Regions from separate parts of the Homo sapiens genome. Here regions 1, 2, 3, 5, 6 and 7 are each linked to region 4. Evidence: fine-mapped expression QTL. A gene starts in region 4. Each other region holds a variant in brackets. All regions are shown on one strand. Distances are from middle to middle. Region 1 overlaps JAKMIP3 (Janus kinase and microtubule interacting protein 3). Region 2 holds the start of DPYSL4 (dihydropyrimidinase like 4). Region 3 overlaps STK32C (serine/threonine kinase 32C). Region 4 holds the start of JAKMIP3 (Janus kinase and microtubule interacting protein 3). Region 5 overlaps JAKMIP3 (Janus kinase and microtubule interacting protein 3). Region 6 overlaps JAKMIP3 (Janus kinase and microtubule interacting protein 3). Region 7 overlaps DPYSL4 (dihydropyrimidinase like 4).

Evidence for each region.
Region 1: its variant is fine-mapped to the expression of JAKMIP3 in blood mononuclear cells (TOPMed, PIP above 0.99). The same link has a PIP of 0.9 or more in whole blood.
Region 2: its variant is fine-mapped to the expression of JAKMIP3 in whole blood (TOPMed, PIP above 0.99).
Region 3: its variant is fine-mapped to the expression of JAKMIP3 in whole blood (TOPMed, PIP above 0.99).
Region 5: its variant is fine-mapped to the expression of JAKMIP3 in cerebellum (GTEx, PIP above 0.99). The same link has a PIP of 0.9 or more in adrenal gland, aorta, caudate, cerebellar hemisphere, cerebral cortex and hippocampus.
Region 6: its variant is fine-mapped to the expression of JAKMIP3 in cerebellum (GTEx, PIP above 0.99).
Region 7: its variant is fine-mapped to the expression of JAKMIP3 in whole blood (TOPMed, PIP above 0.99).

Annotation. Positions count from the first base shown.
Region 1 is chr10:132,165,828-132,170,091 of GRCh38, forward strand. It overlaps JAKMIP3 (Janus kinase and microtubule interacting protein 3), which reads left to right. Exons shown (of 24, transcript NM_001323087.2): 22 at 1,156-1,228; 23 at 2,126-3,206. The coding sequence ends at 1,206. Among named protein-coding and RNA genes, the nearest start is that of JAKMIP3-AS1, 19 kb to the right of the region's middle. The variant C/T (reference allele first, on the strand shown) is at 2,091.
Region 2 is chr10:132,186,714-132,190,871 of GRCh38, forward strand. DPYSL4 (dihydropyrimidinase like 4) reads left to right here and starts at 235. Exons shown (of 14, transcript NM_006426.3): 1 at 235-389; 2 at 4,034-4,122. The coding sequence starts at 351. JAKMIP3-AS1 (JAKMIP3 antisense RNA 1) reads right to left here and starts at 39. Exons shown (of 4, transcript NR_184044.1): 1 at 1-39. RefSeq lists an enhancer at 954-1,455. The variant G/A (reference allele first, on the strand shown) is at 1,905.
Region 3 is chr10:132,221,123-132,225,393 of GRCh38, forward strand. STK32C (serine/threonine kinase 32C) reads right to left here. Exons shown (of 12, transcript NM_173575.4): 7 at 4,111-4,214; 8 at 3,285-3,401; 9 at 1,739-1,864; 10 at 1,519-1,650. Among named protein-coding and RNA genes, the nearest start is that of DPYSL4, 36 kb to the left of the region's middle. The variant C/T (reference allele first, on the strand shown) is at 2,000.
Region 4 is chr10:132,063,471-132,067,741 of GRCh38, forward strand. It overlaps JAKMIP3 (Janus kinase and microtubule interacting protein 3), which reads left to right and starts at 2,476. Exons shown (of 24, transcript NM_001323087.2): 1 at 2,476-2,591. RefSeq lists an enhancer at 1,253-2,000.
Region 5 is chr10:132,139,403-132,143,673 of GRCh38, forward strand. It overlaps JAKMIP3 (Janus kinase and microtubule interacting protein 3), which reads left to right. Exons shown (of 24, transcript NM_001323087.2): 10 at 1,049-1,177; 11 at 2,518-2,646. Among named protein-coding and RNA genes, the nearest start is that of JAKMIP3-AS1, 45 kb to the right of the region's middle. RefSeq lists enhancers at 2,246-3,093, 3,094-3,940. The variant A/G (reference allele first, on the strand shown) is at 2,521.
Region 6 is chr10:132,130,715-132,134,985 of GRCh38, forward strand. It overlaps JAKMIP3 (Janus kinase and microtubule interacting protein 3), which reads left to right. Exons shown (of 24, transcript NM_001323087.2): 4 at 2,598-2,813. Among named protein-coding and RNA genes, the nearest start is that of JAKMIP3-AS1, 54 kb to the right of the region's middle. The variant G/A (reference allele first, on the strand shown) is at 1,935.
Region 7 is chr10:132,205,118-132,209,388 of GRCh38, forward strand. DPYSL4 (dihydropyrimidinase like 4) reads left to right here. Exons shown (of 14, transcript NM_006426.3): 14 at 1-642. STK32C (serine/threonine kinase 32C) reads right to left here. Exons shown (of 12, transcript NM_173575.4): 11 at 3,917-3,984; 12 at 2,375-3,034. The coding sequence ends at 2,893. Among named protein-coding and RNA genes, the nearest start is that of DPYSL4, 20 kb to the left of the region's middle. The variant C/T (reference allele first, on the strand shown) is at 1,901.

The DNA of each region.
Region 1 (4,264 bases), 100 kb after region 4:
CTCAAGGCACAGCCTTTGAGGCCCCGGTGGACTCCAGGCCACGTGGGGAAGCACCCACTAGCACGCAGGGGCACCCGGCCTTGCCGGGAGGGGACACAGTGTTCTGGGGGCTGGAGCCTCAGAGGGCAAAGCCTCTCCCCAAACCAAATGTCTGTTTCATTTTGCATCTTAACCTAAGGATATTTGTTTGTATTAAATACTAGAAAAATGTGAGGGCTAGGCGTGGTGGCTCATGCCTGTAATTCCAGTACTTTAGGAGGCCTAGATGGGAGGATCGCTTGAGCCCAGGATTTCAAGACCAGCCTGGGCAACATAGTGAGACCCTGTCTCTAGAAAAAAATTTTAAAACATAGCTGGACATGGTGGCACGTGCCTATAATCTCCGTTACTCAGGGGGCCGAGGTGGGAGGATCACCTGAGCCTGGGAGGTTGAGGCTGCAGTGAGCCATGATTACGTCACTGCACTCCAGACTGGGTGACCGACTGAGATCCTGTCTCCAAAGAAAAAAATAGATCAGGTGTTATTTCTTAAATCTAGCTAAATAGCTCTTCATTCCCAAGCGATGCCCCACTGCCCGATTTTCTCTCGTGTCCAGATGGGCCTGGCTCCCGACCCCCAGCCCAGAGTGAGACTGTGTGCGCTTTGTCTGCTCAGGGTGCTGGTTGTACTTTGCTGCTTACGGTGGGACTGAGACCACAATATTCTCACAGGCCTGCTTTTGTTTGCTGGGCACTTGGAATGTCTTTCAATACAACGTTCACCATTATTATTACCCCATTGGTGCTCTTGCCAAAAATTCCTGCAGCAGGTCTCAGCGATGGGTTTCACTTCAGGGAGGAGGAGACCCAGTCCCCGGGAGGCTGGCCTTGTGGTGCTGGGGACACGCTGGGTGTGGGGCCCCTGACCAGCGCCCACCACCCGCATCTGCCCGGTGCAGAGTCCCCAGTGCGTTCCTAGGGGTGGCGGCACCACCCCTCAGACCCGGGGATTTGGGCAGCATCCCTCCCTCGGCACAGTCCTTAATAGCGTCCTCTCCTCCCTGCCAACAGCTCTGTCTTCAGTCTGTAATCGCGTGTATTTCTTGCCAGAAGCACTACAAACTCTTTTTTCTCTTTCTTTCCTTCCGTTTCTCCATCCTCCCCTTTCCGTTTCAGTTTCTATTTTTGTTCTTATTTTTCTCCTTAGCTTTCATTCTCTGGTCATAGTCCGTCTTGGCACCCTGACGTGGTGAGTATTTCGTTGGCAGGGCCCAGCAGGGGTCCCGCTCTGCTTCCCGGAAGACTCCTCTGCCCCTGCCCTGCCAGGGAGTTGCCCACCTGCCATTCGATCAACTGGAAGGCGATGACCCAGCATCCCCAAAAGGGTTGTTAGAAAGCCACCCGCGTCCTTCAACACTGGAAGTCCCTCCCTGGGGGTCAGGACCCGGAGTCTTCCACTGTAGAGGCCGCAAGGTGCTCACCTTTCCTGAACGGGAAGGAGAGCAGGGTTCCCACCACCACCCCAGTGTAGCAGAAACATGCAGGACCCTCTCTAGGGGGTCTTTCTGCTTTGGTGGCACTCGGCAGCAGGCCCTGGGGGCAGACACGGTGGTTCTGTGATTCGTCCTTGTTCTTTTCTGGGTGGTGCTGAGCACAAGCTCGGGCGGTGCTGGAGATTCAGCCAGGAGGGCTTGGTCTCCCTGCCAGGCCGGGCAGCTTAGGCCAGGATAGCTGGAGTCTACAGGTCATGGCTGCTGCTACCATGGCACCCGCCAGCATAGATGGCTGCCTCCTTCCAAACTGGAGGAGGGGCAAGTAGGACGTCACATCATTGTTCGCCTCGGTCCTCGAGTCTGCACCCTTCAGCAGGTCCCGAGAGGAGCTTCCCCTGGGAGCAGGGCTCTCCCTCTCCATGAAGCCCCTCATCCCTCACCCCTTACCCCTCACTCCAGCCAAGTGGAGTCTCCCTGACATCCTCTCCACGCAGCCCTTCGGTCCTCACCCCTCACCCCTCGGCCCTCACCCCTCGGCCCTCGCCCCTCGCCCCTCACCCCTCGGCCCTCGCCCCTCGCCCCTCGGCCCTCGCCCCTCACTCCAGCCAAGCGGAGCCT[C/T]GCTGACTCTGCACTCTACGTTTCATTTCTTCCAGCCCCACATTGAATCGGACCCTTTTCCTCCAGTGGGACCAGAAAGCAGGGACAAAATGGGACGTCGCGTCTCCATCCTGAAGACCCAGGGAGATTTGGTCTCTGCACGCCCGTCCCGTGGAGGAAGAGTGAGAAGGGGCAGTGTGTGGGGCGTGGAGCTGCCGTCCACGTGGGATGTGCCAGAACTAGAACTGGCTCTGCCGACTTCTCGGGGGCTTCTCCGGGACGGGCCTGGCCTTGGCTGCTGGACCCTGGGTCCCTTCTCCCGGACGGCAGCCCCCATCCCATTTCCAGGGATGTGTAGCATTCCCTGCCAAGCAGGGGTGAGAACTGCTTCTGTGCAGAAGCACCAGCCGCGGGTCCCCTCCTCTCTCTTGGTTCTCACAGTAGCTGCCACTGGTGTCTGGAGGAAGATTTTCAGAAACAACAGAGGCTTGGCCTGATGACAAGATGAAAGCTGGACGGTGACCTTCATTCAGGGGAACCTGGAGGCTCCCTGGGATGGTCCTGGGAGGGCTCCCCGACGCCTCAGGGGCCCCTCCGATGCTGCAATATGTTGCTGGGGTCCTGAGCACCCGCTGGCCAACAGACCCCACATCCACCCTCGTTCATCATCATCTCTGTGGGGACAGACAAGAGCCGTGGCCGCCGCGGGCCGCGTGGTGCCATCAACCCTCTGCCTCCCTACTCAACCTGAGACAGGAAGGCCAAGATCCCGCCCAAGCCGCCAGCTGGGAGCACCGCGGGACTGAGCCAAGGAAGGCGTGGGGAGCGTGGTGACAGGAGGTGGGACGAGGGGGCGGAGCTGGCTGGAACACGGATGCCAGAGGCTGCCTCCATAGTGAATCTCCAGAAGTCACAGAGGCCCTGGGCACCCAGAGCCACCCAGCCTGGAAGCCCCTGCACGGGCCAGCCCTGCAGGCCATGGACCCCGGCGGGCACCGAAGCCTCACCCCAAGCCTTTGCACACAAGGAGCAGCCCAGGTGGGGATGGCGGGCGCAAGAAGGGAACCGCGGGGACGGCCTTTCCCCTCCCGCCCTGTGTGGGGACGCTGCACGAGCCGTGGACCAAGAGGCTGACAGGTAAGGGCTGCCATCTGTCCGCGGGGAGGGCCTTTGCACCCTCCCTGCGAGGTGAGCTCCAGCTTCTTCACACCTCTGTGTCCCCGTCTGCACATGCGTGACGCTGCCACCCCGTCCACTGCTGACCCGTCAAGATCACCTCTCCCGCCACTGACGGGACAGGGCCTGGGGGCTGGTGTGGAGCGTGGCGTGAGCTGTCGCTGGGGCAGGGTCTGCAGACATGGTGCTCCACGGGGACCTGGCGTCTGGCAGAGCTGGTCCTCCTCCCACTTGCAGGAGGAGGCTTGCGGGAAAAGGGAGAAACCCCGTAGGTGCAATGAGGCCGCTCTCCGAGTGCGCCTCCCTCCGCTGCTCCCGTGCACTTGAACGTGGACGCCGCCCCACACTCGGCCCCGGCACCTGAGGTGTCCGCTCTGGGGAGGCGACTCTGGGTGCTCCCAGCAGGGAGGGAGGGAGGTCAGGACTCTGGGCATGCTCCACCGTGGAGCTTTCCTCGCCAGCGGGGTTCCCTATGGGAGGGTTTGTGGATCCGTTGTGTCTGTGGGACTCAGCGGGGCCCTGGGGCAGGGTGAGCCGGTTCTTGGGGAGGCAGTGGCAGCCCCATGGGGGGCCGCCCAGGGAGCGCTCCATCTCCCCCACCTCCGACCCACACCGTGTCTGAGAGCCACCTGTGTCTCCTGCAGTGGGCAGCGGCTGTGGGCCACGGGCACTGTTGTTCCCGGGAGATGCTCCCTGCGTAGAAAATGGGAGGGGGAGGAGGAGGTGCGACCACCACCCTGGACTCAGGAGAGGGCGGCAGCTCCATCTTCACCCTTGACTCAGGAGGGGTCCGCAGCGAGGAGGAGGTGCGAAGGGGGCGGCGGCTCCGTCTTGCAGGTCCCCTGGGGCGCGTTCTTCAGGTGCGTGGTGGACGAGGCGGCGTCCTCGCGGGGTCGGGACCTGGGTACCCAGCAGCATCTGGCTCCTGCATCCACCAAGGGCGCCCAGGCACAGCCTCAGGCCAGAAGGTTCGCTGCAGAGGTTCATTCTAGAAGGAGCGGGAGACCAGCAGTCCCAGC
Region 2 (4,158 bases), 120 kb after region 4:
GTCTGCGCGGGGGCCCGGGGTGCAGAGATCAGACCCTGCAGCGGTTCCAGCGCTGGGGGGGCTTTAAAGCGAAGGAGTGGCTGAGGGCGGGGGCGGGGCTGATGGGCGGGGTGAGGCGGGGCTCGGGCTGGGGCGGGCCCTATCGGGGGCGGGGCCTGCCGGGGGCGGAGCCGGGGTGGGGGCGGGGCCCAGCGGGGGCGGGACCGGAACGGAGCCGTGCGGCCCCGCGCGCTCGCAGTCTGTCTCCCGCCGTCCCCACGCACGCGTCCCGGCTCACGCGTCCCCCCGCCCGCCCGCCCGCCCGCCCGCCCCCGCTTGTGCCGCCCCTACCAGAGACCCCCAGGAGCAGGATGTCCTTCCAGGGCAAGAAAAGCATCCCCCGGATCACGGTGAGCCCGGTCCCGCTTCGCCCGGCGCCCCCTGCCCGCCGCCCGGAGTGGGGCCTGGACGCCGGGCGGACCCTCCTGGTCTTGTGCGTGGGTGGGGGGTCCCTGCCTTTGCGTCTGGTCCCTGTCCTGGCGCCCGCCCTTCCCTGCTCGGCTCCTTCGCGCCCCAGGGTCCGAGAGTCCCCGCTAGCGCCGCGCAGACCCCCTTAAGGAGCGGGGCGCCCAGGCCCGGCCCGGCCCGGCCCTGCCCGGCCCTGCCGGGCCCTGCCGGGCCCTGCCCGGCCTTGCCCGGCCTTGCCGGCTTCCGGGAGCCTCGGCTGCGCCCGGGGAGAACCCGGGGCCGGGCGGCCTGTCCCTCGGAGCGCTAGCGGCTCCTTTCTCCCACGGCGGTCGGGTGGCGAGGCGGGCGGACGCGGCCCTTTGTTGGCCCGGGCTGGTCCGGGGCGCGGGGAGATGCCGTTCCCGGCGCAGCCCGTGGGTCGCCCGCCCCTTGGACGCACTGGCGCTGCGTCGGGAGCTCTTTGTCCGAGACAAAGCGATTTAGCCCCGGCCGCTCTGGCCGGAGTCCCTGGTGGCCCCGAACCCTTCCAGTAACCTGGGTTCAGCGACTCCAAGGAAAGCGAGCGGTCAAGGGCCACTGGCCGGGAACCCTGGCAGCCCCTGAACCTTCGAGAGCAGAGACCCCTCCCCAACACCCACACGCACCGGCGCGGGAGGTCCCGCTCTGCCAGAAACAAAGCCTCCCCGCTCGGGCGGGGGGAGATGGGGGTGGGAGGAAGGAGGCTTCGGGACCCGGCAGGACCTGGGCGGGGGAGTCCATGGGGTCCCAGACCCGACTCTGGACTTGGCCTCGGCGGGAGGGCCGTGGGGTCTGACCTCTGGCATTAGCTCGAGCCGTGGGCTGTGGGCTCCACTCCCCCAGACTCTGAGCGAGGAAGGAGCCCTCCCCTCTCCAGATGGGAGGGGCTGCTGCCTCCAGAGGGTTCTGCCCGGCTGGGTCTGGTCTTGATGCAGGAGGTCTTGCCAGTCAGCTGGCATGTGGGGGTCGAGTTTGGGGGTGGCAGGAGGACCCCTTCCCAGGGGAGGTCAGGCAACCATGTCAGTGCGGAGGGGCAGCTGCTTCCCGGGAACTTTCACCTCCATCCGGATGAGTGCAGTAAGAAGAGCACAGCCCCACACCCCAGCTGCGTCTCCTCTGGGTTCCAAACCCAGTCTCAGTGCGGGTGCCTGAACACTTGGGCGCCTATGAGCAGAGAGCCCAGACCACACGTCTCCTCAAGCCTCCTTCTGCCCGGTTGCGTTTTCTAGGGCTTCCTTGAAAATGCGTGGGTCCCCTGGGAGGGGTGGAAAGTGAAGAAGAGGGACAGCACCGGGAAGGCAGCCAGGGCCTGATGCGGCCACAGAGGCTCTGCAAATGCATGGTGGTGCCGGGTCAGGGCTGAGCCTGGCGCTCAGCTGGGACTGGGCAGGAGGAGGAGAGGTGCAGCGGCTGGGAACAGACAGCTCTGTAGACCAAGG[G/A]TCTAAAACTTCTTCCACAACCAGCCCGAGAGTAAATGTTGTCAGCTTTGCGGACCACGCTGTTCCTGTCTCAGCTGCTTGGCCCTGCCAGGAAAGCAGTCCTGGACATTTAGGAAGTCGATGGGCACCACTGTGTTCCAACAAAACTTCATCTGTGGATGCTGCAGTGTGAACTTCATAGAATTTTTGAGTCATGACATACTCTTGTTATTGTTTTCAGTGAATATACAAGAACGATTCTTAGCCTAGGGCTGTATGAAGAGAGGTAGAGGGTTGGGTCTGGCCTGTGGCATAGTCTGCCAACCGTTTGTAGACTATGGGGTAGAGGTTGACAAGTCACTGGGATCCTGAAAATACAGCCCCACAGTTAGATGTCAGCAGTGAATCCTGTAATGGAGTTCCTAGATAATGAACTCCTTCTCATTCTGAGAGTTTTACCAATTGTGCACTTCAGTTTAATGCTCTTGGCTTCAGACTGACGGTGCGTGAAGGCTCTAGCCCCAGGCTAGGGCCCTGGCCACCTATGGGTGGGCCCTGGAAACCCAGAGCAGGCGGCCGGACCTCCCTGTTAAATGCAGACGGTCAGTCCTGCCGGGTCAGTTGCAGGGCGTGCTGAGGCGCACGCCAGACGGTGGAGGGAAAAGCGTTGCCGAGTCCAGCCCGTGGGCGCGTCCTTCTCCACCTCCTTTCACTCCTTTTTTGTGTTTCTCTCCCCCATTCTCCAATGAGGTCAGATCTTCACCTCTGACGGTCATGCAGAGTCCCATCAGTGACACCCTACTTTCTGCCTAATCTTCTGCTTCCCGGCCATCTGGTAGGATTCTTAGAAGTGGATTTATGACTGCCAAGCACTGGAGTCAATCCCTGTCTAACGCCACAGCTCTGTGCTGCCAGGGCTGACCTACAAAGAGCGGGCCTCACCAGCCTGACGCTCTGTGTCCCACTGGGAGTGCGTCCGAGCTGCACTGGAACCGAGGTCACCCCATCTCTTCCCCATCACCCCCATGGCCTCTTGGTCAGCAAGTCCTGCCCTCCTGACTCCCAGCCTCTCTGGAATCCACTCTCCTCCCGTCCCTTCCCATAGTCCTGTCCCAGAGCCCCTCATCTCACTCAGAAATCACCCCAGCAATGATCCGGCTCCCACTGTTACCTGTCACAAGCTACTTTCTAACACAGCAGCCAAAGGTGATCTCTTTAAAACATCAAACCAGGATTGAAACCTGCTTAAGGCCCCCAGTCAGGGGGCAGCCATGGAGTCCCCAGGCCTACATATCCTGCCCCTGCCAAGCTCTGGGCACCGACTTGCCTCTGGCACCACCACCCCACCAGAAGGTTCCATCCCTCGGCCTCCTCCCAGGTCTGCTGATGGCAGCTCAAGCCCTTTCCTGCCCCAAGGCCAGGCTGCTTCCTGGCTGGAACGCTCGCCATGTCTGCCTTGCCCCTGTATCAGCCACCCTGGCCCCAGAGGTCCTTCTCCCAGCCCCTCTCTCATGGCCCTGCCATGGCGCCCTCACTGTGCTCTGCGCATTCGTCACCGACTGTGATGATCTGTGCACGTGTGTTTTTGCTGCCGTTGGTCTCCCCTCAGTGGGAGGCAGCCTCCTGGGGTGGGGACCATGCCTGTGGGGGCGCTGTCTGCCTCCGCCTCCTGGCACCATCACTGGTCTGTAGTGTTTGGGTGGAACCAAAGTCCAGCTCCGTCCGCTCCCAGCCTCCTCTGCGTGGGTGGAAGACAGGGTGGAGGAGAGCAGGATCTCTGAGGCTGCACAGGAGGCCATGAGGCAGCGTTCGCCTCCCACCTCAGGCTGGGGCTCCTCAATCCAGTGGTAAATCAGAAGATATAAATATGACCTGTGGCACTACCACACTTTCACCAACACGGGCTTTGCCCTCAGCGAGGTCTGAGCAGCAGCTGTGGGGCGTGCGTGGCACTTCCAGGGGCAACTGTTTTTGAGCGCCTGGTGCCACTTCTTGGGGAATAGTAAGCCGCTGCAGGCTTTTGTGCTCGTTTTTACGTCTAGAAATTTTGCCTGAATGTTTCAGTCATAATTTCAGAGGAAGGAGTTGCACCAAGAGTGTTACTGAGTAACTCAGTTTGGAGAAAAATTACCCTTTGTTGTTCCCGATAGAGTGACCGCCTTCTGATCAGAGGTGGGAGGATCGTGAATGACGACCAGTCCTTTTACGCTGATGTGCACGTGGAAGATGGCTTGATAAAGTAAGTTTCCGCCGAAAATGAAAATACGTTCCCAGC
Region 3 (4,271 bases), 160 kb after region 4:
GGGCTTCACGTGGCCGTCCCCGCACACACAACCAAAGCCGGCACACCTGGGCGAGTGTGAGGGCTTCACGTGGCTGTCCCGGCACACACACCTGATGCTGACGCACCTGGGCTAGTCTGAGGGCTTCACGTGGCCATCCCCACACACACAACTGATGCTGACGCACCTGGGCGAGTGTGAGGGCTTCACATGGCCGTCCCCACACACACAACTGATGCTGACGCACCTGGGCGAGTGTGAGGGCTTCACATGGCCGTCCCTGCACACACAACCAAAGCCAGCACACCTGGGCTAGTCTGAGGGCTTCACGTGGCCATCCCTGCACACACTCACAACTGACATCAACGCACCTGGGTGAGTGTGAGGGCTTCACGTGGCCATCCCTGCACACACAACTAATATCAACGCACCTGGGCAAGTGTGAGGGCTTCACGTGGCCATCCCCGCACACACAACTGACACCGATACACCTGGGTGAGTGTGAGGGCTTCAGATGGCCGTCCCCCCACACACAACTGATGTCGACACACCTGGGTGAGTGTGAGGGCTTCACATGGCCGTCCCCACACACACAACTGATGCTGACGCACCTGGGCGAGTGTGAGGGCTTCACATGGCCGTCCCTGCACACACAACCAAAGCCAGCACACCTGGGCGAGTCTGAGGGCTTCATGTGGCCATCCCTGCACACACTCACAACTGACATCAACGCACCTGGGTGAGTGTGAGGGCTTCACGTGGCCATCCCTGCACACACAACTAATATCAACGCACCTGGGCAAGTGTGAGGGCTTCACGTGGCCATCCCCACACACACAACTGACACCGACACACCTGGGCTAGTCTGAGGGCTTCACATGGCTGTCCCTGCACACACAACTGACATCAACGCACCTGGGTGAGTGTGAGGGCTTCACATGGCCATCCCTGCACACACAACATCAACGCACCTGGGCGAGTGTGAGGGCTTCACATGGCCGTCCCCACACACACACCTGATGCTGACGCACCTGGGCGAGTGTGAGGGCTTCATGTGGCCATCCCTGCACACACAACCAAAGCCAGCACACCTGGGCGAGTGTGAGGGCTTCACATGGCCGTCCCCACACACACAACTGATGCCGACGCACCTGGGTGAGTGTGAGGGCTTCACATGGCTGTCCCGGCACACATACCTGATGCTGACGCACCTGGGCGAGTGTGAGGGCTTCACATAGCCGTCCCCGCACACACAACCAACACCAGCACACCTGGGCAAGCACGAAGGCTTCACATGGCCATCCCCGTGCACTCATAACCCCAGCCCTGGTTGTCCCTGCCCACCTGCTTCATAAGGAGCGAGGTGGGGGCTGGGAAAGGCAGAAGGGAGGTCTCTGGCCTTCTCAGGACTTCAGGAAACGGTCTGCTGGACTTCCGAGACGTGTGCGCTGCCAGGGGTCCCCACACGCCTTGCTCGGTGGTAGAGAGGAGCCCCAAGCCCAGCCCGCCGCCGCGCCCTGAGCCTGCCCTGGCACTCACGGACTGGGAGCTGTCCCTGCTGTTGTCCCGGGACTTGTTCTTGGCCAGACGCTTCTTCTTCTTGTGCAGGGGCCTGGACTCCAGGATCATCTCCTCCAGCTCAAAGGTGGGGTCGCAGTGCAGACGGCCTTTCTACAGAGGGATGGGTGCTGAGCCCCGGCCCGTGGAGGACGCCACATCCATCCCCAGGGCCCCCCACCTGAGCCGCCCACAGGCTTACGTTGGGCACGAAGCCCGGCTCCACCCTCTTCTCGCTCAGGTGGTCCCACAGCACGCCGGCCAGCGCCGGGGCTGCCTGCACGTCCTGGAGGCTGGAGAGCCGGTGCTCGGGGTTCACAGTGAGGAGCTGCAACCAGGCATGAGTCAGAGGGTCCAGGGCCCACAGCCCACCAGCACGGAATAGCCCGCCACCCCCAGGCCAGGGCACCTTGAGGAGGGTCCCACCAAGCCTGAGGTTCAGAATTCAGGAACCTCAGGGCCA[C/T]GCGAGGAAGGGTGGTGCCGACGGCCGACATCAGGCAAAGCACCGTGGCTGGCTCAGCATGTGGCCCAAGGGACGCCTGTTCTCAGTGCTGCTACCTAAACCCCTGGCGCCAGAGGACAGCAGAGGGATCTGCAGGGAAGGCTCTGCTGGGATTTGCCAGGAGGTGGCAGCCGAGGCCCGGCTAGCGGCTAACACTCGGCACATGGCTGGCCTCACAGTAACTATCCCAGAGCCACTTCCTTCACCGAATCATGGGACCTCCACAGGCCAGATGAGCCCGGGGCAGCCATGCATGGCCTGGGAAGCAACATCCCAGCGCTGGCACCTCCCGCCTTTCCAGGGAAAATGCCGCAGACCCAGACCCCGTGCGAGGTTTCCCAGACCTGGGCTTGGGCGTGTGGGTCATCCCCAGTCCCCACGCAGGCCCTCTCTAGCCCAGTGCCACCTTGTGAGCCACCTGGGCAGGTGTGACTGAGCTTCGTGGGGCTACAGCAGAGTTAAGAGACTCTCGGGGCTGGGGAGAGGCCCCGGCAGGCAAGGCCTCCCCAAGGATTTAGGCTGCTTGGCTACAATTCCAGGGCAGGAGGCCCCACCTGCCTGAGACACGGGGGCCGGGAGGCAGCCGGGCCCGTGTGGCACACTCACTCCCCTCCCTGTCCTGCCTGGGCCTGGCTCTGACTCCGAACCCCCTATGGTGTTAATGCGAGGCTCGGAACAGGGAGCTGTGCAGCCCAGTCAAGGCACAGCCCCAGCCTAGCACCAGATCACAAATGGGAGGCACTACTGATGGCCACACCCCTGCCCGTGTCCCTGCCAGGCTGATGTCCCCTGAGAGGTGTTTGCAGTGGGCAGTGGCTGCCCACCTTCCCCAGGAGGCACTGGGGCAAAGGGTCCCGGAGATAGCATGGGCTTGAACCCACCCACCCGACACCCTCCTTCCAATACGTGGGACAAGGGGACGTGGCTCAGGGCTCCTCTGTGGTGACCGGCAGGGCGGGCGCACAAGCCTGCTGTGAGGGTGCCTGGAGACGCAGCTCAGGGGATCACCAGGACACCAGTGACCTGGTAGGGCTCGCCATGAGAGGGCCACAGAGCCTGCCACCAGCTCGCTTCCTGGGGCTTGGGGCTGCCATCTGCGGAGGCCCCCACAGGTTGCAGTGAAGGGATCTGTGCCTGCCAGGAAGCGGCACTAACTGTGCACTGGAGGGGGTGTCCCGAGCCGCAGGTAAGTGAGGGAGGGAGGTGGGTGCTCGGAGGGTGAGGAGGCTCAGGGATGGGGGCTCACCTTCCGCAGCAAGGCCACCATCTCCTTGGACCACGTGGGGACATACTGGACGCTCACGGTGCTGAACAGCTGCACCAGGGACTCCACGGCGTTGCTGGAGTGGATGTCATAGGGCCTCTGGAGACAGGGAGGCAGTGCTGGGCAGGTCCTCCTGGCCCCCAGGACACCCAGAACAATGCCAGACACAGGTGCCATCGCCCTGAGAGGACCCCCTCCCCCCACCCCAAGTGCAGGCACAGCTCTGAGCACAGCCTGGCCTCCACCTGCCGCGGAGGAGCCTGGGTGAGATAAAGCTTACGCCTGGGTCCTGCGCCCTGGCTGCTGCGCCCATCTGGCTGGGATCCCAGGGGGCCTGGGTCCAGGTAGATCAGCCCCAGAGGGCCAGGAGGGAGCTGGCTTCCTCAGAGGTGGGGTCCTGTGCAGGGCTGAGGGGTACGGTCCACAAGAGGACCCCCAGCCTCCCGGTCTCCAGGACTGGCCTCGCCGTGGCCACAAGGGTAAGAGCACAGGGCCCCAAAAGAAACTTTTTGTGGAAAGTTCCGAGGCAGCACCCCTGCTGGCCAGTTCTCAGCCTTGTCCACCCCCACAGAGGCTGGCCTGCAGGCACCAGCAGCGGCCCCGGGAAACCACAGTGAGTCTGTCCTTCCTCCTCCTGCTCAGGCATTCCATCACCAACTACACACTTCGATAAAAGCGTGACTCCTCAGACACAGTGGAGACATCCCTGCGCACCTGGACACTGGGGCAGCCACCCCCTCCCCAGCACTGGTGGGGGCAGAGAGCAGGGGCCTGGCAGCCAAGCCCAGGGGCTGCAGGGGGTCCATACCCATCCTCGCAGCAGCTCATAGGCCATCACCCCCACCGACCACCAGTCCACCTCGAAGGAGTAGCCGGTCCCGCCGTTGACAAAAGAGTGGAAGATCTCCGGAGCTTTCCGACAGAAAGAAGGAAAAACAGCTGCCACGGGGTCACAGCCCGGACCCGTGG
Region 4 (4,271 bases):
GTGTTTTCCAAATTCTCTACAATGAGCACATTTCACTTTTACAACTAGAAAAATGGATGCTATTTAAAGAGCAGGCTGCTCCCTAAGCTGGAACGCCGGGTGTCAGCCCGGCCCAGCACCCACCTGCTCTCCGCCTCAGCCAGCGTGGGGATTTGGAAGGGACAGTGTCTCCCTCTGGGCTCCGGGAGAGAACGGACCGTCTGCAAGGGGCACGTTTACTGCAGGAATCAAAAGCACATACACGCATGTGCATCTGTTTGGAAATGAAAGTAGATGTTTTTTCTGATTCTAAAAATATTGTTTCCAATTCTACAAAAAAAATACATACAATTCAGAAAGATACAAAACAAAATATCAAGTCACCTGAGATCCTATCACCTGGAGCTATGGCCACTTTAGAGCTTGGTATCTACGCTTTCAGGCTTTGTTTTTCTTGAGTGCAACACACACAGGCACGCGTTTTTAAAAACAAATAATGTGATCATACTATACACACTTTTTTAAACAGAAATGTGAGCATACGATACCAGCTTTTTTATGGCTGACTTTAAAAAACTTAAACAATAGGTTGTTTACGTCTTTCTGTTAAGCTTGGACTGGGGACATTTTTAAATGGCCCCATTGTATTTGGACGTATGTGCGTTTCCCATCGCTTGTTAAATCACTCCTCTGTTGGACGTCTAGGATGTTTCCAATTATTCCCTGTTATATTATGGACAACACTGCCGTAAGCATCCCTGAGTGAGTTATATTTAAAGGCTTACAACAGCGCCTGGCACGGGGTAGGTGCTATAAAGTATTTGGACTAAAGTCAAATCTGTGCACACACCATCCTTGTGTTGTTTCCCCAGGATCAATTCCAGCAGGAGGACAGCTGGGCTGAGGGGGCACTGCCCTCGTCAGGAAGGTTGTCCCCGTGGCCTGCCTCCGACTGAGGAGGAGCCACCCTCGGGGTCGGGCGTGGACCCCGAGCCGCCGGCATGGGAACCCTCTTTGCTTCAGGGCAACACGGGAGGGGTCTGGATCTCCGACCCACCGTTCCGGGTCTGAATCCAGCTCCGGGACCTGACAGGGATGTGATTGTGGGGCAGCCGCATGGCCTCTTGGCGCTCCAGCCTCCTCCCCTGTGACATAGAGGCAGCGATGGTTGGTAACCAGGGACAGCGGGCGGCTCCGTCACACGAGTCAGGACATGTGACCCTTGGAGGGTTGTTGCATCACCCTGGACGTTTGGCCAGACGTGTGGCCATGGTTTTAATCAGGACAATTTTTTGCTTGCTCTAACTTATGAGGGTGGCCAGATCTAGACAGACAGCAGAAGTAACCCGAAGTCCTGGCCTGCCCTGTGCCATCCTCTGACATGTTATCATCGGCGTTCACTCTGTGGGCTCCTCTCGGGGTGATGCCTGCCGGTCTCAGCTTTGGGGTGAAGTGACATTTGGCCTTGACTAGAAGAGGCAGGTTGTGGGGGGCAGGCAGGGTGCAGGCGAGGGAACTGAGGCAGAGCGGGCTGGGAGCAGGGGGGATGTAGGGTCCTCCCAGGCTGACCCCCAGAACCTGGGCGTGCAGGCCTGCTCTGGGGTCCAGGCTCCGATGCAGTCTCAGCGCAGGCCCTGGTGGCCGGAGACAGGGCAGGGCAGGAGCTTCAGGCCACCCGCACCGGCAGCCCTCAAGGCTGCCTTGATGGAATCGGACCCAGATGGACTCTAAGCGGCCTCCTGCTTGGAAACCCTGTCAGACCCTGCGTTTTCTACAGAGCGGCTGTCACACGGCTTTTCCGGACGGTGATTATGGACTGCGTGTGGGATTGGCGGGCCAGGTGAGCTCTCGTGCTTGCCCTTCACACAGGAATGCTGCTGGTCTCCTGTGTCTGGTTCCCGTCTGCATTTTCAGTCCTCAGTGTTGAGTGTGTGCAAATCCCTTCTATCACCTGACATTTAAAATAGATACCCTCAGAGTGGAAGTTCGTTCCTATTATTGACCCGCTCACTCTGCAATCTTGAAGGGGGTTCTCCAAGCAGGAGGGAAAGCCGGCCAGAACGCGGTCCTGGAGCAGCCAGGAAGCCGAGGGGGCGGTGAGGGCAGGGATGGCCCAGCCGTGGCCTCTGCCGCTCGCTGGTTTTCACGTGAGACTGCCGCCGGGCCAACCCGGAGCCCAGGCCGCCTCTGCATCTGAATAGAGCCAAGCTGCCTTCAGGATCTCACCTGCGTGGCTGTGCCTTCGGCCGCCCGGCCGTGCAGAGCTGCGGGCCCCTTCCCCACCGAGAAGCGTCTGTTCGCGCCCTGCAGGGAGCTGGGCTGGGGGCTCAGAGGATGCCTCTGTGCTTGGCCTTAAGGTGCACAGGGAGAGCTTGGGCGATCCTGGCTCAAGGGCTCTGCTTGGAAACAGCTCGGGGAAATGGTTCCTCCCCCTGGATGTAGTCACAGCGTGGTAAATTCCATCTGAAAAATAAAAGCCGAGCTCTTTGCTGAGTCATAGAAGCTCGGAGCTGATTTGCGCAAAAGCCGGACTGAGTCTTGGACGAGCCGGGAAAGATTCTCACAGTCGAGCAGAGCGATGGGAGAGAGGAGCAGACAGCGAGCTTTGGAATGTGAGTGTTTATTTTCTGACTGCTGCAGAGGCTTTGTTGGTTTCGGTTTGGCTGTCTCTGCACAGGCTCTTTCCACCTGGTGCTCTTCTGTATTTAGTGCGCACACGTATGTGGCTGGAAAGTTGACAGTTTGGGGTCTGTCCTCTGAGGGGTGCAGGGACGATCACAGAGGAAGATGCTTCATTTATCCGTTTTCACGTTCATGCTCATGCACACATTTGGAGGAGGCTTGGGCCTGCGTTCCCAGTAGTAGGTTTCTCCTTTAAAGCATGGGTGTGTGTTCCATCCCATATGTAAAGCGGATGCTTGTTGGCACGGCAGCCGTGGTGGGGTGGGTTGGGGAAGCCAGGCTGAGTCTGTGTATTGCCGGCTGTGGTGAGAATCCCACGGACATAGCACCAGAGAGCTGTCTGCACAGCCCGGGAGGCCTGCGGCGTCCGGGTGCTTCCTGGCTCCGTGGGGTAACCGGCTGGACTTTTTTGCTGCTTGTTTTCCTTTTGAAGAATAGGTCATCTTTATGGCTTGAGGCCTCACCACCTACCTGCGCATTGATTGGATGGTGTCTTCTCTTTAAAACTTAATCAAGAATCACACATCACTCATTGATATAACTTCTTATGCAAGGAACTCCAGGTTTTTGGGAAACAACAGCTTATTAACTTACTAATTCACTCTTTGAGGTTATTGCACCATGCCTCAGTTTCTACAGTTGTTCAAAGAAAATCCACTGCTGATTGGGACTGGCAGGGCTGCGGTGGAAAGGGTGTCACAGGTAACTTGGCAGTACGTTGTTGTACTGATGCTTATTGAGATGTCAGTGAGACTGGCCGGGAAACCATGCAGGCACCCTAGGGATGTAAATACTTGCTGCTGCCGTTGATTTTGTTGTTCACAGTGTGGGAGAACCAGTCACAAAACGGTTTTCTCATTCCAAGCCAAGCCTGGAGTAGTAGACTTGAGAGTCCTCTCAGTGGATCGGGCCTTTGAGCAGGTCCGTGGTAAAACGCCACCTCAGTTCCCGAGAAGAGCAGCAGAAGAGGAAAGTGAGCCGGGCCGAGGAAGGACCCTCAGTTTACATTCACAGCATTACCGGCAAAAGGCTGGCGTTTGGATGAGGTTCCCTAAGAGTCCCACAGAGTAGATCAATATGATCAATATGTGCTTGGAGAAGACAAGACGCCTGGCACATTCACATTCCTTCTCCAAGGCTGAGGGTGGGGGGAGGGCATTGGCATTCCTGCTATTCCCGAGGTTTCCCTGCCTCTCCTGTGAGTTGAGGGCACCCCTGTGAAACCTAAGGGCACGCTGTGGCAGAGAACATGCACGGAGCTCCTGCTTCTCTCCCGACAGCCCTGGGAAGGCCTTACTACTTTAGGTCCTAACTAACAATATCCAAACGACCAGGTGGTGGTCCCACAGCAAGGGAGCTGTCAGTCAGAGCTGTGCCTCTGCCCCCGTATTTTGGATCGAGCTCCTCCAAGAGAAGTAAGTGTCCTATACATGTTCTTGGAAGGTTGATCTTGACTGTGGACTTCCGTGTGGACTGTGGGCTTCCGTGTGTACTGTGGGCTTCCGTGTGGACTCTGGGCTTCCGTGTGGACTGGACTGTGGGCTTCCATGTGGACTGTGGGCTTCCGTGTGGACTGTGGGCTTCCGTGTGGACTCTGGGCTTCCATGTGG
Region 5 (4,271 bases), 76 kb after region 4:
TGTGTATGTGTGAGTGTGTGTGTGTGTTTGTGTGTACATGTGAGTGTATATGTGTCTGCATGTGTGTATGTGTGAGTGTGTGTGAGAGTATGTGAGTGTGTATGTGTGAGTGTGAGTGTGTGTGTGGCTTGTAAGCTGTCAGCAGTGTTTTCTCGCTGTTAGACTGTGAGATGCTCCTCGGTCACAAACACTTGCCCTCTGAAAGGTGGAGAGGAGGAGCTGTCCAGGCTCTCCCCGCTCGGGACCCCTCTGGGATTTGGAAGTGTCCAGCAGACGCCTTGGCCCTGTGAAGGGAGGACACAGGGTGTGGGGAGGCACACAGGACAGGGGCCAGTGGTTGGCGGGGAGTAGGGGAAGTCGGGTGGCCCTGGGGTCCCTGAGGGAGTTTTGCTGGAAGGTTCTGGCAGAAGAACTGGGAGGAGACCTGGAGGCCACTGTGGCCACGGCAGAAGGGACTGAAGAAGATGGCGGGCTTTCCATTTTGTAACACTTCTGAAGGGGACCCAGATGAGTCCCTCTTCGATTCTTGAAGGCAGGGGTGAGGGGGCCCTAAAGATGCAGACGTCGGGGTGAACCTGGAGGGTCCCCAAAGGCAGGGCCTCTCACACCAGCTGGCGGAGGACCCCGTTTTTGTTTGTATTCCAATCAGTCAAGGACTGAAACTTTAAAAAATGGAACAGAAATGCATCACTGGGAATGAGATCACACAGGGAAGGCACCCATCGTCGGTTCTGTTAACCCGGGTACCACCCTCAGGGAACCGCAGGGACGGTGCCCCACGAAGGGCCTCATTCCCCACCACCAAGGGCAGGGCCAGGACCCGCTCACCCACGGGACTCCAGGCCCCTTCCCCACCCGCCCTGCCAGCCTTGCCATAGAGCGCCCCTCACACCCAGGCCACCTCCTCGGCCTGTGCCAGGGACAGAGATGGGAGTGTGTCGCAGGGTGGGGCTGCGGCCCCCACCGTTGGGCAGCGGGAGGAGGCGGCGGGAGGAGGCGGCTGTGCCTGGGTCTGGTTTGAACTGACACGTCGCATTTTGGTCACAAGCCGGTGGTTGTGGAGACCTTCTTTGGATACGACGAAGAGGCTTCCCTGGAATCCGACGGCTCCTCCGTCTCTTACCAAACAGACAGGACGGACCAGACCCCGTGCACCCCGGACGATGACTTGGAGGAGGTAACGAGGGTCTCCTGCCGGGTCCTGGGCTTGGAGGAGGTAACGAGGGTCTCCTGCCGGGTCCTGGGCTTGGAGGAGGTAACGAGGGTCTCCTGCCGGGTCCTGGGCTTGGCTGGGCATGGGCTGCCGGCTTTTCACGGGGAAGCCCTTCGCGGCCCTCACTGGCACTGACCCGCTGATAGCTGACTCGGGCACGGTGAGAAGCTCCCATGACATGGCTTGGGGTGTGGGCTGAGGCCCGCTCTTGCTCCCATGAAGGCCAAACCATGCCTCCTTCTGCCACTGAGCCTACGCCCCTTCTGCATAGGGGTACGGTGAGCTCTCCCTTCCTAAGGGGCCTCCCCAGGAGGGTCTGAACCACTCATCAGGGAGTTTGGTCTCAGTGCCAAGAGCACATTAGGGTGAGGGGTGTTGAGCAGGAGTTTTCTTTCTGATAACAGCACAGGTGTGTCTGCCCACCAGCCCCTTCTTCCAGAAGGACGGCTACCCTCAGGCGCAGGCAGCCATTTCAGCACCAGGTCGGGGCTTGGTGTTGTGGGACCCAGACCCTGTGGCTGTGGGACAAGGAGTGGGGTCTGCAGTCAATGGCACAGCCAAGGATTGGGCCTCCCGTGGCAGACCCTGGAGGGTGGCCCAATGGCCATAGACCTGTTGAGGGATCTAAGACATCCTCTCACAGCCTCAGGTGCAGGGTTGGGCAGGGGAACTGGGCCAGGCCAAGGCTTCTGGGCTCAGTCACTCCTAGACGTGGCCAACCCTTCCAGCCCCGGGGGTCCACCGGGACCCTTTGAAGGCAGCAGCAGGCTCACCTGTCTTCTCCCTGGGGTGACGGGGGGCACTGCAGCTAGCAGGGTGAGCCTGCAAGAGTGCACCTGGGAGGAGACGTGCTGCCTGGGGTACTTTACCCCCTTCACAAAGCCCAGCTTTCTTCCCAGGACGTGTTTCAGCAGAGCAGAGCGTGTGCAGGCCTGGTTGGTAACAGAGGGTCTGCTGGGTCAGGGCAGCCTGGCTAGCAAGCAGGAGCCCCAGCTGAGCCCCTGGCCATGGCCACCAGCCCAGCAGGCTCACCCTGTCCTCAGCCGTGCAGCCGACTCAGCTCCCACCCCAGGGCTCGGTGCTCCCCTCCCCAGGGAAACCTTTCTCCAAACAGCACTGAGTCCCCAGGCAGCCGCCCCTCCCTGCACACTGGAGCAGGTCCCCTCCCTCATGCTGCTAGAGAGACCCCCCCATACACCATTTGATATCTGGGGAGAAGGGAAGCCCCGGGGCCCCGCCATCGGAGGAGGTGCTGGCTACTGACACTGTGTCTCTGTGCGTGTGTGGCATCCGTGTCTCTCCAGGGC[A/G]TGGCCAAGGAGGAGACGGAGCTGAGGTTCCGGCAGCTGACCATGGAGTACCAGGCCCTGCAGCGTGCCTACGCTTTGTTGCAGGAGCAGGTTGGAGGGACGCTGGACGCAGAGCGAGAAGTTAAGGTCTACGTGACTTCCACCGCGCGTTCCGGCCCCCCTCGTGCCTTCCCGCTTGACCCCGTGGCCTGGGCTGGGACACCCCCCTCACTAGCCCTCCTGGGCCCGGGCCCCTCCTCTCCTGCCCTTGCCTGCAGTCCTGGTGGTGCCCATGGAAGCCGATCAAAACCAGGGATTGGGGATCCCGGTGCTGGGAGTTGGCCCAGGTGGGAGGGACTGGCCCAGAGCGGTGCCAGGCACAGGTGTGAGTAAGGGTCCTGGGGGAGGCGGGGTGGTAGTGGTGGCAGGGGCCCACAGCGCCCAGGGTGGGCCTCCTTCCAGACCACCTCTTCCACTCTTGGCAGCATGGCGATGGCCCGTGGCAGCATCGAGCTCGGTGTTGAAACTTGTGGAGGTCATTCATCCTCAAAGGCTGAGCTCACACAGGCTGTGCCTGCCCCGGCCCCGGCCCCGGCCCCTCTCCCCCGGCCTCCCCACTGGGCAGCACCCCAGCAGCCGTGTCCCTCCGCCCACTTCCCTGGCTCACCTTAGCGTCGTCCCCCAGGAAAGGCCTCAGTGTGGCTGGCGGGTGCCCTCTGCGGGCCGTGGAGGGCAGTGCAGGCACCAGGCCTCGTGGGGAGAGCGTGGGCCATGGGTCGGGGGTCCTCTTGCCGCCCCACCCTCCCTTACTGAGGCTCGGAGGGGAAGCCGCTGGAGGACCTGCACCTGGTACCCCTCACAGCGAGACGGGCTGCTTTCCGGGGGAGCTGAGGGGTTCTCCAGAGCAGGCAGCTGTGGGGTGTGGGGTTCCCGTTGGCCTCCCCACCCCAAAACCACCCTGCAGGGCCAGAGATGCCAGTGTCTGGCAATTCTGCAACTTAGGGTGGCTGAGCTGGGTGGGGGACGGACCTCTTGGGGCGAGGGGAGAGTGTCCACAGAGCATCCCCAGCGTGGTCCACGCTAGTGCCCCAGGGAGCCGCCAGCCTCATCCTCTGTCCACCCAGACCGCCCTGGTGACGTGGCTGGTTTCCCTCCTGCCTTCCTGGCACCTCATTGGGGACGTCTGTTGTGAAAACTAAGAGAGAGCTCCACCCCTCTGTGCCCTCCTCCTGTCCTGAGTCGGGGTGGGGGGGGCTGGCCTTGGAGGGGGCGTCCCCTCCTCAGGCTCGGAGAGATTTGTCTCCGTAACTGGGGACTTTAAATATCGCCTCTTTCACTTTGACTTAATTTTTGCATGACCCTTGGAGAAAGGAAAAAGTCAAGGCCTCGGTTCAGAGCATCATAAAGCACAGCAGCCCCGAGACATCCCAGAGCCTCATGGGCCCAGCCTTTCTCCCTCACAGCGGGGGCGGGGCAACAGCCGCATCCTCCTGGCCAAGCTCGCCAGGAGCTGGAGGAGCTGGAGAAAGCATCCTGTCTTCCCTTTTTCCTGTCGGGTGCCAGAGAAACATTTGCTCGGGGGCCACATGGAAGCAAAGAACTCAGAAGCTTTGCTTAGAGAGTAAAAATGTCCAAACTGCATGTAAAAAAAAGTTTAATGTCATTTAGAATCAGAGGAAAATCTGATGCCGAGAAGTGCTGCATGGTTATTTTAAAAACTAGAAGATACAGAAAAGATTAATGAAGAAAATAGACTAGCCGGCATCCCACAG
Region 6 (4,271 bases), 67 kb after region 4:
GGGTGATGACGTGGCCTGTGTAGTGAGCATGCTTCATGGCTGTGGCGAGACGCATGTGTGCAGGGGCCTCAGCACTGTGGGGCAGTGGTGAGATCATGTCCGTGGGCTTCACAGCAGGGAGGCTTATGAAATGCAGCTTCCCAGGCTCCACCCTAGAGGTTCTACATGCTCATCTTGGGGGGCTCAGGGTTCTGCCTATGGACAGCCGTCACAGGTGGCTGTGATGCTGCATGTCGGGGCCCCATGCAGAGAGACACTGTGCGGGGCATGCTTGGGGGCAGGCAAGTCGGGGGCGGGCAGAGTGGAGGGGCATCTTCTCTCCTCCAGCCTCAGCGTCGGCCTGCACACCCCCTGTCCTGGAGAGTACCGTCTCAAGGGGCTTCTCTCCAGTTTCCAGGCATCCTCTGCAGCTGGGAGTGAGGAGGTCCTGGTGGGTGGGGAAGGCAACAGAGGGAGCTCATGGGGTGAGGGAGTATGGGGGCGTTGTGGGGAGACGGGAGTTCAGGGGATGAAGAGTATGGGGAAGAGTCGGGGGGCAGGGAGATGGGAGCTTATGAGGTAAGGGTGTGGGGGGCTGGGGAGATAGGAGCTTATGGGGTGAGTGTGTGGGGGCTTGAGAGACACAGGACTTAACGAGTGAGGGTGTGGGAGATGGGAGCTCTGGGGTGCAGGTGTGAGGCCCAGGGGAGATGGGAGCTTATGGGGTGAGGGTATGGGGGCCTGAGAGACAGGGTACCTAAGGGGTGAGGGTGTCGGGCCCGGGGAGATGGGAGCTCTGGGGCACCCGGGGGCTCCAGCAAGTGTTGTGGATCCTGTTCTTAGTGCCGGGGTAGGATGTTTTATGACAGCCTCTGACTCTTGTTTGTGGAGCTGACTCTAGGGTTGTGAGTGGAGCAGCTTGGGTAGGCACAGGAGAGGACACAGGGCGGCCGTTTGGAAGCCATAGCATTCGTCCCAGTGGAAGATGCTGGCAGTGGGGTGATGCTTGCAGCCTGGTGCACCAGGACGCCTGTTTCAGCTTTGAACGTCCCGTGTCCTGGGAGCCCTCTCAGTCCGGAACCCGCTGGGAGGGCTCTTCCCCCGGGTGTCTGTGTGGGTGCAGGTGGGACAGGAGACAGGTGTGCCGCCCCCCACCCACAGCCCCATGGGAAGAAGTGCAGGGTGGGGTGCGGCGCCTGCACAGGCATGGGAAGCCCCCGAATCCTGCCCTGCCTGCTGCTGGAAACAGCCCACCGTGAGCAAGGTGGGGGCTCCTGATAAAAGAAAATCTTGTTTGAGTCTGAGAGTGTAAATGCCAGGCCGCAGGCACAGCTGCTGATGGACACGCTCTTATTTCACCGGCCCCATTCCTGCTAACTGACTGTGTTGCCTCTTTCAGCATTGCTGTGTGCAGAGAAAATGGGGATTTAGCAATTAAGGATTTATTTTCTTCTGTTCAGCTCATCACTTGCTCCATCCAGGCTAATTAGACATCTCATTTCTTTGTTTCCAAGCTAATTTCAGCAATAGCAGATTTATTAGCTTGTTTAAACCTCAAACAATGGGTAAAGCAGCAAGATATCCCATTCTGCTCTGTTGTTTGAAAATATATTTCAAACTGAGTTGTTCATCCCCAAAGACCTTGTCTTTTCATAAATCTAGTGCCGTGGAAAATGATGCCCAAAGTGCCGAGCGTGTCTGTCTGAAGAGCGGGGGCTGTCGGGTCTGCTGTGCCCGCGTTCTGGCTGGCACATTCCTGCCCGGAAGCGGGGCGGGGTACTTGCAGGCAGCGGCTGCCATATCCCCGGAAGGAAGGACTTCTTCCCTTCATAGGTTGAGCACAAAGCGCCACGTTGTAGGGAGGGTGGGGAGGGCCGCCGACCTCTCACAGCCACTGGTGGGGCAGACATCCTGCACACCCCTGGGCTGCCGTCTCACCCCAAAAGCCTTGGCTC[G/A]CAGCCAGATTAATGAGCAGTGTGGCTCTGCCTGAAGACAGCTGTGCGGGGCCCCAGCTTTGTAGCCATGCCCAGAAGCATGGAGGGGCGGTGTCCAAGGACCACAGTGGTGCCCCTACGTTGCACAGCCCTCCCCTGGGGAGTGGGCCTGGGCTGGGGAAGGGGTAGCACTGGCTTTCAGGCCAGAATTTCTGTTCCCCATGGTCTCCCCTGCCTGTTTAGGGAAGAAACTTGGCCGTGGCACCTTCCTATTGGCAGAGTGTGGGTAACTTGGGTGTCCTCCTCTCTGTCCAACCTACAGCAGAGTCAGGAGCTGGAGGTGGTTTCTGCTGACCCTGCTAGAAAGTACCACCCCTGTGTGCACCCAGGGCCCCGGCAGGACAGCACGGAATGGGGTGCCTTGCTGAGCACACAGAGCCCGGGGACCGTCAGGAAGGAGTCTCCCGCTGGCAGCAGCTCTGCGTAGCCGGCTGAGCCAGGGCCTGCTGGGAGCCCGGGTGTCGTGCCTCAGCCCAGGGCCACGGGCTCCTGCTCTTAGTCCAGGATGCTTCGCTTTTGCTTCCGGTCTCAGAGCCCAGAGCCTGGCAGGGCTGCGCCCGTTTCTATGGTAACTGCAGATCCGTGTCCTGCCGCCTGTGTGATTGTGTTCTGTTCTCCTTGTAGATGGAGGAGATAAAATTTAAAGACAGAGCAGTCTTCGTGCTGGAGAGAGAGTTAGGGGTTCAAGCCGGGCATGCTCAGAGACTGCAGCTCCAAAAAGAGGCTCTAGATGAGCAGCTGTCCCAGGTCCGAGAGGCCGACCGGCACCCGGGCAGCCCCAGACGGGAACTTCCTCATGCAGCTGGTGCAGGAGACGCTTCAGACCACTCGGGAAGCCCTGTAAGCACCTCCCAGGCCCACCGGCCCACCCCGTGTCACAGACAGACCTGGCCATGTGGCTGCATGGCCCTGCATGGGCCACTCCCCCAGGAGACCAGAGCCCGAGTTGAGGCAGCACCCTCCTGCCTGGGCACCTCCCCACCCAGCCTGGCCCTAGGTGCTCAGCTCCTCTGGCTCTGGTCCAGAGGGCTGGTGGACTCGTCTCCTTCCTTTCTGTCTACATAGCATCAGCTCTGGCCCTGTCACCCTCCCGTGGGCCCCGGCCTCATCACCCTTCTGCTGCAGTTCATGGCACTTGCTGGCCCGGAGTCCGGCCCTGGGTTGGTGGGAGGAGGCTGTGCTGGGTATGCGCTGCCACCATCTCCAAGCACACGGCCTCTGCCTCTGGCCCGGGAAGGCTGGTGCACCGGCTCCCTGCCCACCGCGTGCCCAGCTGGCCCCTCAAGGGTGATTTCCGGCACTCTCATCACCAGTCACCCTCCCACCCGCTTCTCATGTGATCATGCCACTCTGCGCTCCTCCCTGGGCCGCTCTGTCGTGTGGGGTCTGCCGACCACCCCGGGCTGAGCTCCACCCGCTTCCTTGCTGCCGCTCCGCACTCATATCCTCTGTCGTGGTTCTGGGATGCGCTGGGGGATCTGAAGTCCAGGGACCCTCCAGCTGGTCCTTCTGGGTCTTTGACCCCGAGCCTCTCCTGCACCTGTTGAATGAGGAACTCGAGTCGGGCCCAGGACCATCCTGGATGCTGCTTGTTCGCTTTGAGGATAAAACTGTGTGTGAGCTGAGCCGGTCCTAGGACAGTGACATTTCAAGAATAGAAAATATTATTTTAAGATCTCATTCAGACAGCTTCATTGAATGAGATCCAGCCCCTCCTGCTGGTGCGTGGTAGACTACAGCATTCACTCCAGAGAGATCTGAAACCGGATTCAAATGTTTTCACCAATTTTTGAGTGAAGTCCCAGGGGTCCCAAAAGCGGCTCTTTAGAAGCCCCATTGGAGGCAGGTCACCTCTTTTGGAAGTCTCCCACAAGTGTCTTTCCCGTGCTCATGTCATCGTACCAGAGAAATGCCGCCCCGTGGGGCAGGGGGCGCGCACCCTCCTGAAGGGGCAGCGGCAGGGGCCAGGCAGAGGGCTGGGAGCTGGCAGACGTCCTCCTGGCATCACCCACACTCGCGGTTTCTGCATTTGCACGCCCCCGCCCTCTCCATCTGCATACTTCTAGACATGTCTGCTCCTTTTCATTATTTTACTTTATGTTATTTTAAAATAGTTGTGTGTGAGGTAGGGTCTCGCTCTGCCCGTCGGTTCTGTTGCCTCACGCGGTTGCGGCAACCACAGTGCCAGGCTGGGTGCCTTTCCCCGGGGGGCTCCGAACCTTCCCGGCAGCCGCGTGGAGGTAAAGGCGCGCGTCCCACGGCAGCGTTTTTGTTCCCGTAGCGTGCTGGGATTTGCAA
Region 7 (4,271 bases), 140 kb after region 4:
GAGAAGGGCTGAACCTGGGGAGATGTCACTGCCAGGGTGAGGTGGAGCCACATGGCAGGGACAATGCCGGCAGCCTGAGCCCAGGCACCCCAGTGCCCGCTGGGCCCAGCCTGGGGACAGGGAACCTGCCGGGCTCACAGTGTGGGAGCAGCTGGACACCAGGCTTCTTGGTGAACCGGCGAGGGGCCGAGTCCCGCCTGGTGGGCATTTGCCGCCGCCTCCCCACCACCAGTCACTGCCTCGCAGAGCCCTACACTCCCGCAGCCGCTCCTCAGAGGCCTGTGCCCATCGCAGGCCTGGGAGGAAAGTGGGCGCAGAGCCCTCCTGCTCACACAGCTGCTGAGACTTCAGGGACCCATCAGAACTTGGTGCAGCACAGCCCCGCCCGTGGAGGGTCCCTTTTACGCACCCCAAGGCCCACACCTAAGCTTCCATGTAGCCCTCATCCAGGGAAGTTTTGCGATCCTTTAGGAAGACACTGTCCTCTTATTACAGATTGTGTATTTCCGTAGGCTTCTTAGTAGCAGCTTTGTACACTGAGGACACTGTAGCCAGGAACCTGTGCATGCCACCCACCGCCTGGACAGGCAGTCATCCTGCCTCTGATGTGAATCAGGCCCATTAAAGACGTCTGGGTTTGAAGCCGCCTGTGCATGGAAGGAAGGCCCCGTCTCCTCTCCCCCACGCCGTCTCTGCACAGGCGGGGCCTGGCTGGCTGTGGGCTGGTCCGACGACTCCTGCAGCCGCAGCTCTTCTCCCCTCAATGGCAGGGAGGAGCGCACCCTCTCACAGGGAAGAGGGCCGGCAGGGCAGCCAACATCCAGGGCGGGGCAGAGGGCAGCCAACATCCAGGGCGGGACAGAGGCCCCCCCCCCCCCCCGCCTACATTCTCACCGGACAGCCCGAGCCACCCCAGAAGGCCGGGGAGCATGCACGGGAGTGTGTGGAAGTGAAGCACACACCACCGCCACCCAGGTGGGCGCTGCTCACAGACGCAGGCCCAGCACTCAAGGCCGGGCAGCTATGAGGCTGACCCGAGCCCCCGGTGTGTGACTGCGGTGCTGGCGCGTGCTGTGTCTCAAAGGGTGCGTGGACGTTCCCAGACGGTTGTCCTCATCCCAAGAGCGGGGCCTGGTCGCAGTCACTGGGCACTCGCTGTTTGTTGAGCAGAGAGCCAGGGACACCTTGTGCCACCGGTTCTCTGGCCCCTGCCCATGCACCGATGGTGACAGAGAATTTCCTGCCGTGGTCTCTGGGAACCACAGACAGGCCCATCTCTCACCCTGGGCTGCTTATAAAGCTGTGCAGATCCCAGGCGAAGGCCCTGGGCCCTCAGCATTTCCTTCCCGGGGCTCCCTCTGGCCCAGATGTGGGAGCTGATGTCCCCCACACCAGCATCTCCCACTCTGCCCCAGTGTGGGGGGCGATCAAGGGAACCAGACAGCACCCACACCTCACCAGTGTCTCGAAGGAGGACAAGGTGCACCACCCTGCCATGTTCCCCAAATGCACTTATTCAAACCCCCACACCTGTCCTTGCCCCGAGCCTGTCTCTGACATCGCCAGACTTCCACCGAGTACACGGCGCCTCTGGGCCCTCGCAGAGACCGGGCCACCCTTCCTGGTGGTGATTTGGGTGCCGTGTCCCCCATGTGAGCTGCTGAGGGCTGGAAGGCTAGTTTCTGCCATGATTCAGAGGACAGGGGTGGGTGGGGGACGGGAAGCTGCATTCTATCCCCTCGGACTTCTGACTCTGCTCGTGGCATGGCCGGTTCTTCCCCAAATGTTCTTTGGCCGTTGTCATCTCCATCTCGCAGCCCAGCCAAGGACGGGAGGGCCCTGTTTGCCAGGGGTGCAGTGGGGCTCATGGACACAGGTCTAGGCACATGTCCACTATGGC[C/T]GCTGTCCTGGGAAGGGGCACAGACCCGCCACACCCATTTCCTCAGAGGAAACCAGCACAGGCCTGTCTGGAGCGCTGGGCTGATGGGCTGAGCCCGTCCTCCTCCAGCGAGACCAGAGAGAAGCACACAGGCCGTTTACCCAGTTAGTTACAGTTCCAACCACAGAACCACCCAGCCACAGTGAGAGGGATACGTCCCTTTATGGAGGGCCAAGCACTGCCCGGCACTGCGGTGGCTCCACGGTGCACGGTGCTGTCCTGGGCTCCTCTGCCTCCAGGACCGTCTCTGCCTTCCACAGCCTTACGGCTCCAGGGCCACGGAGACAGGCACCCACCCCAAAGCCATGGTCCGGGAGCTCTGCCCTGAGGAGCTGCCCACCCCACTGGCTGCCCCAAGTCCAGGCCAACCAGAAACGGCAGGCACCGGCCTGACGGCCAGGCAGACACAGGACGTACGCAGAACATGCAACATCGAGCGGTTCTCACATTGTAATTCTCAGAGGTGAAAACTACAGAAATTGCTGGAGCAGTTTGAATCTCTAGAAAACATTCACCTCCCCACCCACTACCCCAACCCATGCCCTTGACCTCCAAGACCTGAGCCGAGCCTGGGGCACCCGCGGCCTGTGCTGCAAGGGTCACCTTGTGACGAGGGCCGTGCACAGCCTCCGGGCTGAGCAGGGACAAAGACTCCTGTCCCATCCATGGCCCCAGCTCCCCGTGAGCGGTAAGAGGGCGCCCAGCAGCGCTTCCTCCATCTAGGCGGGTCTCGGGGGCCCACGGGAAATGCCCTCCACAGGTGTCCCCTGCACCCACAGCCTCTTGTCCCCTGCACCACCACGAGCCTGAGGTGTGAAATGTGTCCGGGGCACTGTGGGCACCGCCAGCCAGGCTGGGTGGGAACGTGAATGCCAGGCCTCGGCCCATGGCCCTCCCTCTGGCAGCCGAGTCTCCAAAGCAGCTCAAGGGGTGAGGACCACGGGCGTCCCGGCCTAGCCGCTCCCGGCCGAGGGGCAAATGGGGCCGCACATGGGCAGGGCGGAGCGTTCCGCCTCGTCCTCCACAGGCTCCGCAGCATCCCTGGACTCAGGGGCGGGGAGAGGCTCCCTCGGGAGGTCCTGGCTCCTCTTCAGCCTGGGGTGGCAGGAACACATGGAGGGCGTTATGCCCCCACCTCCCTGGCCTCACGGTCCCATGACCTGCCCACGGGCTCATGGGGTAGGCCATGGCGTGGATGCCCAAACGTGGGCCACAGGCTCGGTGTCTGCTGGAGAGGCCATGCTCCCGATACACTGGCAGGGAGCCTGGGGACGGGTGGGGGCACGTGAGCATGCTGGCGAGGCTCGGCGTGTTTCCAGCCAGAAGCCGAAAGGCCTGACTGTGCAGGTGCCATAGGTCAGTGACTTGGGAATGAGGCTCGGCTAAGCCTCATTCTTCACCCGGTCATCTGATCCCCAGGGTGCCAGTCAGTGCCCTCAGCCGTCTGCACGTGCTGCCCTGCACGTCCTGTCCATAAGAGCTCAGACCCACCTCCTCCAGGAGGCCCTCCTTGCCCCGTGCGGGCAGAGGGAGCATCCATCCTCCCTTGGGCCCCACCGTGGCAGCTGCTGCTATTTCTGGCCTGCCTTGCCTGCTGCCAGTCATCTGTGCCCTTTCTGTCCCCTGGGGCCTGACATTCAGGAAAGGTCTGCTGAGAGACTGAGGGCGTGCCTGGGTGGGGGAGTTGACGTGGCTCTGATGGGGCCTCCTAGGAAGTCACCACCCCTCATCTGGGCAAATGATGTGTCTCTCCCCAGAAGATTCCAGCCACGGGCCCCGCGTGGAGCACAAACATGCCAGAGCCTGGCAGGGGCCTCCCGCCGCTCCCCTCCATAGCTGCTGCTCAGAGTCCCCAAAGAGAGCAGGGCCACGCACCCCAGGCCCACAGGTGCCCGCTCACGTGGCCAAGAAAACCTTAACCTTAGCCCCATTTTCCTCCTCTCTGCCACCACGCCCACCCACCCCCAACACACTCACTTTTCTCTGTTAAAAATCACGAAGTCTTGCTGGATGGCATCGAGGCAGTCTTGAAGATAGTCATTCTCCTGTGGATGGAAAGGCACACGTGAGCGTGGGGGACGCTGTCCAGGTTCCGCCCATGTCCCCTCAAGTGAGTGTCTGGGCATCCCCATCGGGCCTCCACCTGTGGCTTTGGATGACGGCCTCTGGGCTATTGAAGTGCCCCGGCCCTCCAGCAGCCAGACTGCCCGGGAGCTCGCATCTCTGCGGGTGACTCACCCAAGCCCGAGGATGCCAAGGCCCAGCTCCCTTGCCTCTGGGTGGATGGCTTGGACTTGCTCCGTGGGGCCTGCAGGACCAGGCAGAAGCTGTT